Regions from separate parts of the Homo sapiens genome. Here regions 2 and 3 are each linked to region 1. Evidence: fine-mapped expression QTL. A gene starts in region 1. Each other region holds a variant in brackets. All regions are shown on one strand. Distances are from middle to middle.

Evidence for each region. PIP is the estimated chance that this variant, and not a neighbour inherited with it, causes the effect.
Region 2: its variant is fine-mapped to the expression of CES2 in thyroid (GTEx, PIP above 0.99).
Region 3: its variant is fine-mapped to the expression of CES2 in esophagus mucosa (GTEx, PIP above 0.99).

Annotation. Positions count from the first base shown.
Region 1 is chr16:66,933,620-66,936,463 of GRCh38, reverse strand. CES2 (carboxylesterase 2) reads right to left here and starts at 948. Exons shown (of 12, transcript NM_001365405.1): 1 at 753-948. The coding sequence starts at 828. It overlaps CIAO2B (cytosolic iron-sulfur assembly component 2B), which reads left to right and starts at 2,062. Exons shown (of 5, transcript NM_016062.4): 1 at 2,062-2,241; 2 at 2,398-2,477; 3 at 2,725-2,844. The coding sequence starts at 2,100. RefSeq lists enhancers at 726-1,338, 2,177-2,376, 2,407-2,456.
Region 2 is chr16:66,993,009-66,995,508 of GRCh38, reverse strand. All of the region lies in intron 1 of CES4A (carboxylesterase 4A), which reads right to left. Among named protein-coding and RNA genes, the nearest start is that of CES4A, 5.7 kb to the right of the region's middle. The variant T/C (reference allele first, on the strand shown) is at 1,404.
Region 3 is chr16:66,904,348-66,907,191 of GRCh38, reverse strand. LOC107984821 (a long non-coding RNA gene) reads left to right here and starts at 1,932. Exons shown (of 3, transcript XR_001752244.2): 1 at 1,932-2,101. RefSeq lists an enhancer at 1,535-2,844. The variant G/A (reference allele first, on the strand shown) is at 1,357.

The sequences.
Region 1 (2,844 bases):
AGCCTCAACCTCCCCTACTAAAGTGATCTCCCACCTCAGCCTCCCAAGTAGCTGGGACTACAGGTCACAGACCACCACAGCCCACTAATTTCTTTCAATTTTTTGTACACTCCGAGTCTCACTATGTTGTCCAGGCTGGCCTCCAACTCCTGGGCACAAGCGATACTCTCCCTTGGCCTTCTAAAGTGGTGGGATTAAAGGAGTGAGCCAATCGCACCCAGCCACTGTGGCCTCTTAGATCTGCTTTAGGATTTGGCGCCTGGGGGCTTCTGTTCCCCAAGGACCACTATCCTTGTCTGAGGCCCCTTTGGAGGGCTCAGGGCATCCCCCCTGGCCAAGGACGCCACACACTGAGAGCCAGATGCTGCCAGAAGCTATTACTGTTATTACCGGCCGGCAGCACCCGCTACAGCCACAATCATAAGAGGGAAATGGACTGAATCCCCACACCCCAATCCCTCACCCACTCCGACCCCAGGCTGCCTACCCGGCCTGGCATGTCCCGGCGCTCCTGGGGCCCCTGTACTCCGCTGGTTCCTTGCCGTGGTGTCCCCCAGCCCGACCCTTTCTGTGCTTCTAGGAGCCCACCTTGGGCGGCGGGGAGGCGTTGCGTGGGGCTCACGAGTTCCACGCTGTCATCTCCACCAGCTCCTACCTCCCAGGCGCCTGCCCTCCCGCACTGTCAGGTTCTGCCTCCGCAGCATTTGGCAGATCTGAGCCCGGTCCCTGTCGCCCCTCCGAGGGAGCCTCACCCTGGCCCCGGACAAGAAGCAGCAGAAGCCCACAGGCCACCGCGCTCAGCCGCGCACGAAGTCTGTGCAGCCGCATGGTCGGCTCGCTGGTCTCGGTTCGCTGCCGGCGGACACGCTGCTGTTCACCCAGAGGCTGCCCCGGGTCTGTCCAGCAGTGGATCAGTGCCTTGCCCAGCCTTGGAGTTTGGACTGGGCAGGGAGTCAGCGGGGTGCGCTGGCTTGGGCCGGGAAAGGTGGGTGTGGTAGGAGAGCGGGACTGAGCAGTCATAGGTGGGTGGGGATCTAGTGGTAGGCAGGCCCGGGCACGGCCACTTTCCTTTGCCCGGGCTCCTTTGGCATCCTCGGAAGGGGCTGTGCCATTCCTGCAGCCCTTCCGCGATCCAGGGAATCCTCTCTTCAAACCTGTCCTTGTCCACAGGCCCGATGAGCGCGCTGGGGGATCGATAGGAGGGGGCAATAAACTAGAATTGGAGACCCCAGGAGGGCTTCTCTGAGGATGTGCACGTTCAGGATCCCCCAGATGGAGAAATGGGAAGGAACTTGATCGGGGTGAAGGAACCGCTTGAGCAAAGGCAGGAAGGAGTGTCGGCGCCCTTCATTCTGGAAGTTCCTCCTTGCTTTCAGGACTCAGTTTCCTGGGTTCCCCTTCACGGCCCCTCATCTCCTTACAGTCCAGGGTCTGAGGGTCTCCGCGGTCCCCTCCCTACTCAGTCACGCCATTCTTTTGAAACGTACACGTGACCGCGGCACTTCTTAAGGAGCGCCCCCCTTTTCCTCGGTGGCTTTCAGTTTCCTCACCTCCCGCGGAGACCACGGCCATGGTCATTTATCCACTTGACAAACATTTCACGAGCCCCTGCCGGTCCAAGCTGTGGGGACGCCGTACTCCCGGGCCTATGGTGCAGCAGGGGAGGCAGGCGCGTCACCGGGAGGTCCCGAGACACTAGGATCCCTGCCAGGCCAGAGGCGACCAACCGTCCTGGATACGGGAGCTCCCGGCCAGCCTGACTTCCAGGAGGAAGCGGTGTGGGGATTACCTCCGACCGCCTTTAGTGCCCCCTGAGACCTGGTTCTGGCCTCTACGTTTCAGCCCGCTACTGGCTCGCACGACCCAGCGCCGCCGTGGTCCCTTCTCAGCGCCTTCTGCTCCAGCGACCATCATGTTCCCGGGTCCGAGCAGCCAGGGCCGCGGTCACCGCTTCTCTCGCACCTCAGGCCGAGAACCCACAACGCGGCGTGTCCCTCGCGCGACTCCGTCGCCACGCCACGCCCCCTTCCCGTTCTCCGGAAGTGCGCGGGTTGGAGCGGAAGCGCACGCCTGCTAGGATCAGCGGTGGTGGTTCCGCGATGGTAGGCGGCGGCGGGGTCGGCGGCGGCCTCCTGGAGAATGCCAACCCCCTCATCTACCAGCGCTCTGGGGAGCGGCCTGTGACGGCAGGCGAGGAGGACGAGCAGGTTCCCGACAGCATCGACGCACGCGAGATCTTCGATATCCGCCGCTGCTGGGCGCGGGCGGGTTCCGGGGGCTTGCGGTGGGGGGAGCAGTGATATCGAGCAGCTGGTGGAGCCGCATCCCAGCAGGGCGTTCCTGGCAGAGGGTTCTAAGTGGGCAAGGGCGCAGAGTCCCTTTTCCTTCACTTCCCACATCTGATTCGCTCCATCAATGACCCGGAGCATCCACTGACGCTAGAGGAGTTGAACGTAGTAGAGCAGGTGCGGGTTCAGGTGAGTCACTTCCGAGGGGAGCGAGTTGTTCCAGAGAGTCAGAAAGGTTTCTGTGCAGCAGGAGCTGGCGTGCTCTATGCTCACGAACACCGAAGGGTATCTTTGGGGAGGGAGATTGTTGTGCCTATTTTATGGGTGTTGAAACTGAGGCCCATAGAAGTTGGATGATTTGCCCAAAACAACAAACTAAGAAGAGGGACCTTGGGCTGAGGGTGGTTGACTCTTGACATCTCTCCTCCACAACCAGGTTAGCGACCCCGAGAGTACAGTGGCTGTGGCTTTCACACCAACCATTCCGCACTGCAGCATGGCCACCCTTATTGGTCTGTCCATCAAGGTCAAGCTTCTGCGCTCCCTTCCTCAGCGT
Region 2 (2,500 bases), 59 kb before region 1:
CACCCCTGCGCAGCCACTCAGCCACAAATGGGACCCTGGCCCATCTGTCATGGGAAGCAGTGGCTGCTTTTCATAACAATTGATCATAACCATTGTGTGTCTGTCCACTTCTTCTTGTGCTTCTCTCAGAATTTTTTCTCTCCTTTAACGTTTCGTTTATTTATTTATATTTATTTATTTATTTATTTATTTATTTTTTGAGATGGAGTCTTGCTCTGTCGCCCAGGCTGGAGTGCAGTGGCGCAATCTCGGCTCACTGCAAGCTCCGCCTCCCAGATTCACGCCATTCTCCTGCCTCAACCTCCAGAGCAGCTGGGACCACAGGCGCCCGCCACCACACCCGGCTAATTTTTGTATTTTTAGTAGAGGCGGTGTTTCACCATGCTAGCCAGGATGGTCTCGATCTCCTGACCTCGTGATCTGCCCGCCTTGGCCTCCCAAAGTGCTGGGATTACAGGTGTGAGCCACCACGCCCGGCCCTCATTTATTTATTTATTTATTTATTTAGATGGGGTCTTTCTCTATCGCCCAGGCTGGAGTGCAATAGCCCAATCTTGGCTCACTGCAACCTCCACCTTCCAGGTTCAAGTGATTCTCCTGCTCCAGCCTCCTGAGTAGCTGGGACTACAGACACACAGCACCGCGCCTGGCTAATTTTTTTTTTTTTTTGAGATGGAGTTTCGCTGTTTTTGCCCAGGCTGGAGTACAATGGCGTGATCTCGGCTCACCGCAACCTCTGCCTCCCGGGTTCAAGCCATTCTCCTGCCTCGGCCTCCCGAGTAGCTGGAATTATAGGCATGCACCACCATGCCTGGCTAATTTTGTATTTTTAGTAGAGATGGGGTTTCACCGTACTAGCCAGGATGGTCTCTATCTCCTGACCTCGTGATCCGCCCGCCTTGGCCTCCCAAAGTGCTGGGATTATAGGCATGAGCCACCGTGCCCGACCTCATTTAACATTTCAAATCCCTATCAGTAAGCATATAAAAGTTCATGTCGGCTGCGCGCGGTGGCTCACGCCTGTAATCCCAGCACTTCAGGAGGCCAAGGTGGGTGGATCACGAGGTCAGGAATGGTGAAACCCCGTCTCTACTAAAAATACAAAAATTAGCTGGGCGTGGTGACACACACCTGTAATACTGCTACTCAGGAGGCTGAGGCAGGAGAATTGCTTGAACCCAGGAGCGGAGGTTGCAGTGAGCCGAGATCGCGCCACTGCACTCCAGCCTGGGCAACAGAGTGAGACTCCATCTCAAAAAATAAATAAATAAATAAATAAATAAATAAATAAAAATTTATGTCTATTATATGGGCTATTTCTCTGCGTCATTTAATGGCAATAAATGCATTATTCATTTTGATTTCTGTTTGTCTGATATTAATATAGCTACACCTCTGTCCTT[T/C]TTTTGAGATGGAGTCTTGCTCTGTCGCCCAGGCTGGAGTGCAGTGGCACGATCTCGGCTCACTGCAAGCCCCACCTCCCAGGTTCATGCCATTCTCCTGCCTCAGCCTCCCGAGTAGCTGGGACTACAGGCACCCGCCACCATGCCCGGCTAATTTTTTGTATTTTTAGTAGAGACACGGTTTCACCATGTTAGCCAGAATGGTCTTGATCTCCTGAACTTGTGATCTGCCCGCCTCAGCCTCCCAAACTGCTGGGATTACAGGCATGAGCCACCGCGCCCGGCCTACGCCTCTGTTCTTGTTGTTAACATTAGCCCAGCATGTTTCTAGGAAGAAATCATACACGCATATATGCATTCTTACTCATATGCATACTCGCATCTAATACTCACATGTACATGCTAATTTATGATATAGGTACATGTGAGCACAGCTCATCTACAAAGGAACATGCAGAAAAAGGCCAGGCGCAGTGGCTCACGCCTATAATCCCAGCACTTTGGGAGGCCGAGGTGGGCAGATCACTTGAGGTCAGGAGTTCGAGACCAGCCTGGCCAACATGGTGAAACCCCTGTCTCTACTAAAAATACAAAAATTAGCCAGGCGTGGTGGCGGGCACCTGTAATCCCAGCTACTCGGGAGGCTGAGGCAGGAGAATCGCTTGAACCCGGGAGGCGGAGGTTGCAGTGAGCCGAGATTTTGCCACTGCACTCCAGCCTGGGTGACAAAGTGAGACTCCGTCTCAAAACAGACAAACAAACACTCCAAGAAACATGCAGAAACAGAAGAGTAAAATGCATGTCCATATACATACATACATATGCGTACAAGTGCAGTTGTACATAGGTGACAACAAATCTATCTACAGCATACTTATTACACGCACACACAAGCACACATACACAATGCAAGCAAACTTACACCATAGCCAGCTCTTGGCATAGATATGAAATAGGCCAAGTTGAATCCGACTTCCCGTGGATACTCTTTTCTTCCTCTTCCAGGCTGTCATCCTGCCCCACTCCTATTGCCAAGAGTCGTTGAAGCCTCACATCCAATGTCCCTTCCTGAAGTGCCCTTGTCTATTTGCCCCCTC
Region 3 (2,844 bases), 29 kb after region 1:
TATTTTTAGGAGATAATCTCTCCACTATTGGCAGATTCTGTGGGATAGGGGCCAAGCCCAGCTAAGAGAGACAGGGCGGGCAACCTGGCAAAGACTCAGCCAGGATCCCCAGCCCAGGGGTTGGACTCTGAGGCTGGCCCCTGTCATCCTGGCTCAGGTACCCCCACTGGAGGCTCTGCTGGCTACCCTCATCCAGGCAGGGATTCCCTGCCCCTCTGCCAGGATATCCTCTGCTCAGCCTGCATGCACTCAGAAGTCTTCAGGGTGCAAATCTTCTGGAGGTAGTGTCTCATCTAATCTTCCTATCAACCTACGAGGGTGGATTATTGGCCCCATTTTGCAGTGGAGGATCTTGAAGATCAGGGAGGTTAAGGGCCGTAGCTGGGAGTCTTAGAACCACGGTACATGGCATAACTATCTGTCCAAGGTCCGTGTTACCTCTCTGGAAATGTCCACAGCGTTCAGGTGGTCTCTGCTCCCTCAAGATTTCCCAGCAGGGCCTTAGAGATCACCCAGATCAGCTCTTTCTTGTAAAGATGGAAAGGTGAATTGCAAAGAGAAGGAGGGAAATTTCTAGGTTCATACAGCCATAAGATGCGTCACTTGAGCTATAACCACCACTTTCTGGCCCTTATCCTAGATGGATAAGTAGGGAGATAGGAGGGTGCATGGGTGAATGAATAAGTGGATGGCTAGGCAGATGCATGGCTGGATGGATTGGTGGGTAGATGGATGGGTGGGTTGGTAATCGGGTGGATGGGAGACCCACAGACGAAAGGGTGGATGACAGGATACCAGGGCAAATGAAGGCATCTGCTCTAGTTTGAGGGCTTCTTCCTCGGGCCTCCAGGCCCCGGACCACTCTTGGTTGTCACTGCTGGAGCTGACCGCCAGGTCCACAAGCCCCTTCTCCACAGACAAGGGCCCAGGTTCCTTGGGCATCTGGGGACATAAAACTCTCCTGTATCCTCAGCCCCATTCTGCAGAGGAAGGTGGCCAGGTGCGGTGGCTCATGCCTGTAATCCTGGCACTTTGGGAGGCCAGGGTGAGAGGATTGCTTGAAGCCAGGAGTTCAAGGCCAGCCTAGGCAACAAAGTGAAACTCTGTCTCTACATAAACAGAAAGAGAGAAAGGTGAGGATCAGAGAGGGGGTGTGGCTTATCCTGGGTCGCAGAGGAAGAGAGACACAAAGCTGATTGGTCTCTAGGCTTGGCAGTGGGCCAGTGAATGCCTGTAGAGATTAATGCTAGTGAGGCAGGCTTCATTCTGTAGGCAGGGCCTCGCCCCTGCTAGAGCAAGGTGGGGGCCAACCAATAGCTCTATGGGTAGAAGAGCATGTGTTGTGCTTATCCATGC[G/A]ATGTGTTCCCAGGAAAACTGCTTCACCTCTCAGAGCCTTGGCTTACTTGGTGATACAAGTTTTTGTCGTTAGGAAAACTACATGAGATAATCCCTGCACAATGCATTTAGCACAGTGCCAGGCACTGCAGGGCTCAGTAAATGTGACTTTCCCCAGTGCATGGATTGTTGAGGGACCTACATCCCCGCACTTACACACACTCCCTAGAGGTCCCAAGAGGCCCAGGCTTTTGGGAGGGAGTTTGGAGAGGGGCCCCAGCTCCAGCCCCAAAGCAAGAGTGCAAGACACCCCTTCCAGCCCCAGCTCCCTTCCAGTGCCCAGGTGCTCTTAGGGTCTGTGATGTCCAGGGTCTCACAGGGTTCTGGGCTGGAGCTGGAGGGGGTTGAGGGGTGGGCCCCAGCAGAGGCCTCATGCTCCCCTTCTCCCAGGCCCCTTCCAGAGGCACTGGGCCAGATCAAAGGGACCCAGCACGGAGGATCAGGAGGCAGCTTGGAAAGAATGTAAACATGAGGATATTTTTAAACTTTTTCCAGCCCCAGCGATTAGGGCTCTTGAAGCCGGAGGCCCAGAGGTCAGTCTGGCCCTCACCCACAAAGAAAGCAACAGTCTCGGGCCCTCAGAGACCCCACCCCACCCACATCTACCTACACCCACCCAGGACTCTAGCTGGGGCCTCGGGGCAGAAGTTCTTCCTAGGGTGTCACCTCCAGACACACTGCTGCGGCGGGAGGATGCGTTTCTAATGTGAGGGCCTCAGCGGCATGGGACCCTGACTTAAGGGGTGGTGGGGGCCTACCAGACAGGGCTGATGTTGGAAGACTGAGCTTGGGAGGCTTCTTAGTGGCCCAGTCACTCTACCAGGCGTGTGTGCACACGTGTGTCTGTGGGTGTATAAGTATATGCTGCAGTCTGGTCTGTGTGATGCACGCATCGGAATGTGTGAGTGTGCGAGGAGCTTGCCTCGGCCCACCCTTCCTCGTTCTTCCCTAGCATCCCTGACCTCCTCCCTGGGACCCCTTTGGTAGGTGGGTGACATGGGGGGGGTACAAAAGAGGAAGAGTCGCCTGAGAACAGGGAGGACGCGAGGAGAGAAAGGCGCCAGAGCCGGGGGCGAGGAGGCTGGGGGTACCAGGTCCGGGGCCATGCAATGAGTCAGGCTGTGAGAGCTGCAGGAGTCACTGATGTGGGGACTGGGACTCGGCTCCCTCCATCACCCCCATGTGTCACAGTTGGAGATGAGGCTCCCTGGATCTCCCGATTCCGGTGTCACAACTACGCTCACCATGGGTTCCATGACAACAGCCTCTTACCTTGTAGTCACGCAGCTACCCTCACACCCTCACAGGAGTGTCACAGGACTCATGCAGGGCCCCCCCAACACCACCCAGTGGTCGTATCCCAGTGACCCCTATCTGTGAGACATGAGGACCCTCACTGTCTTCACATCCCCACTGACCAGAAAGCCAGAATTCACAGGGGCACTCAGA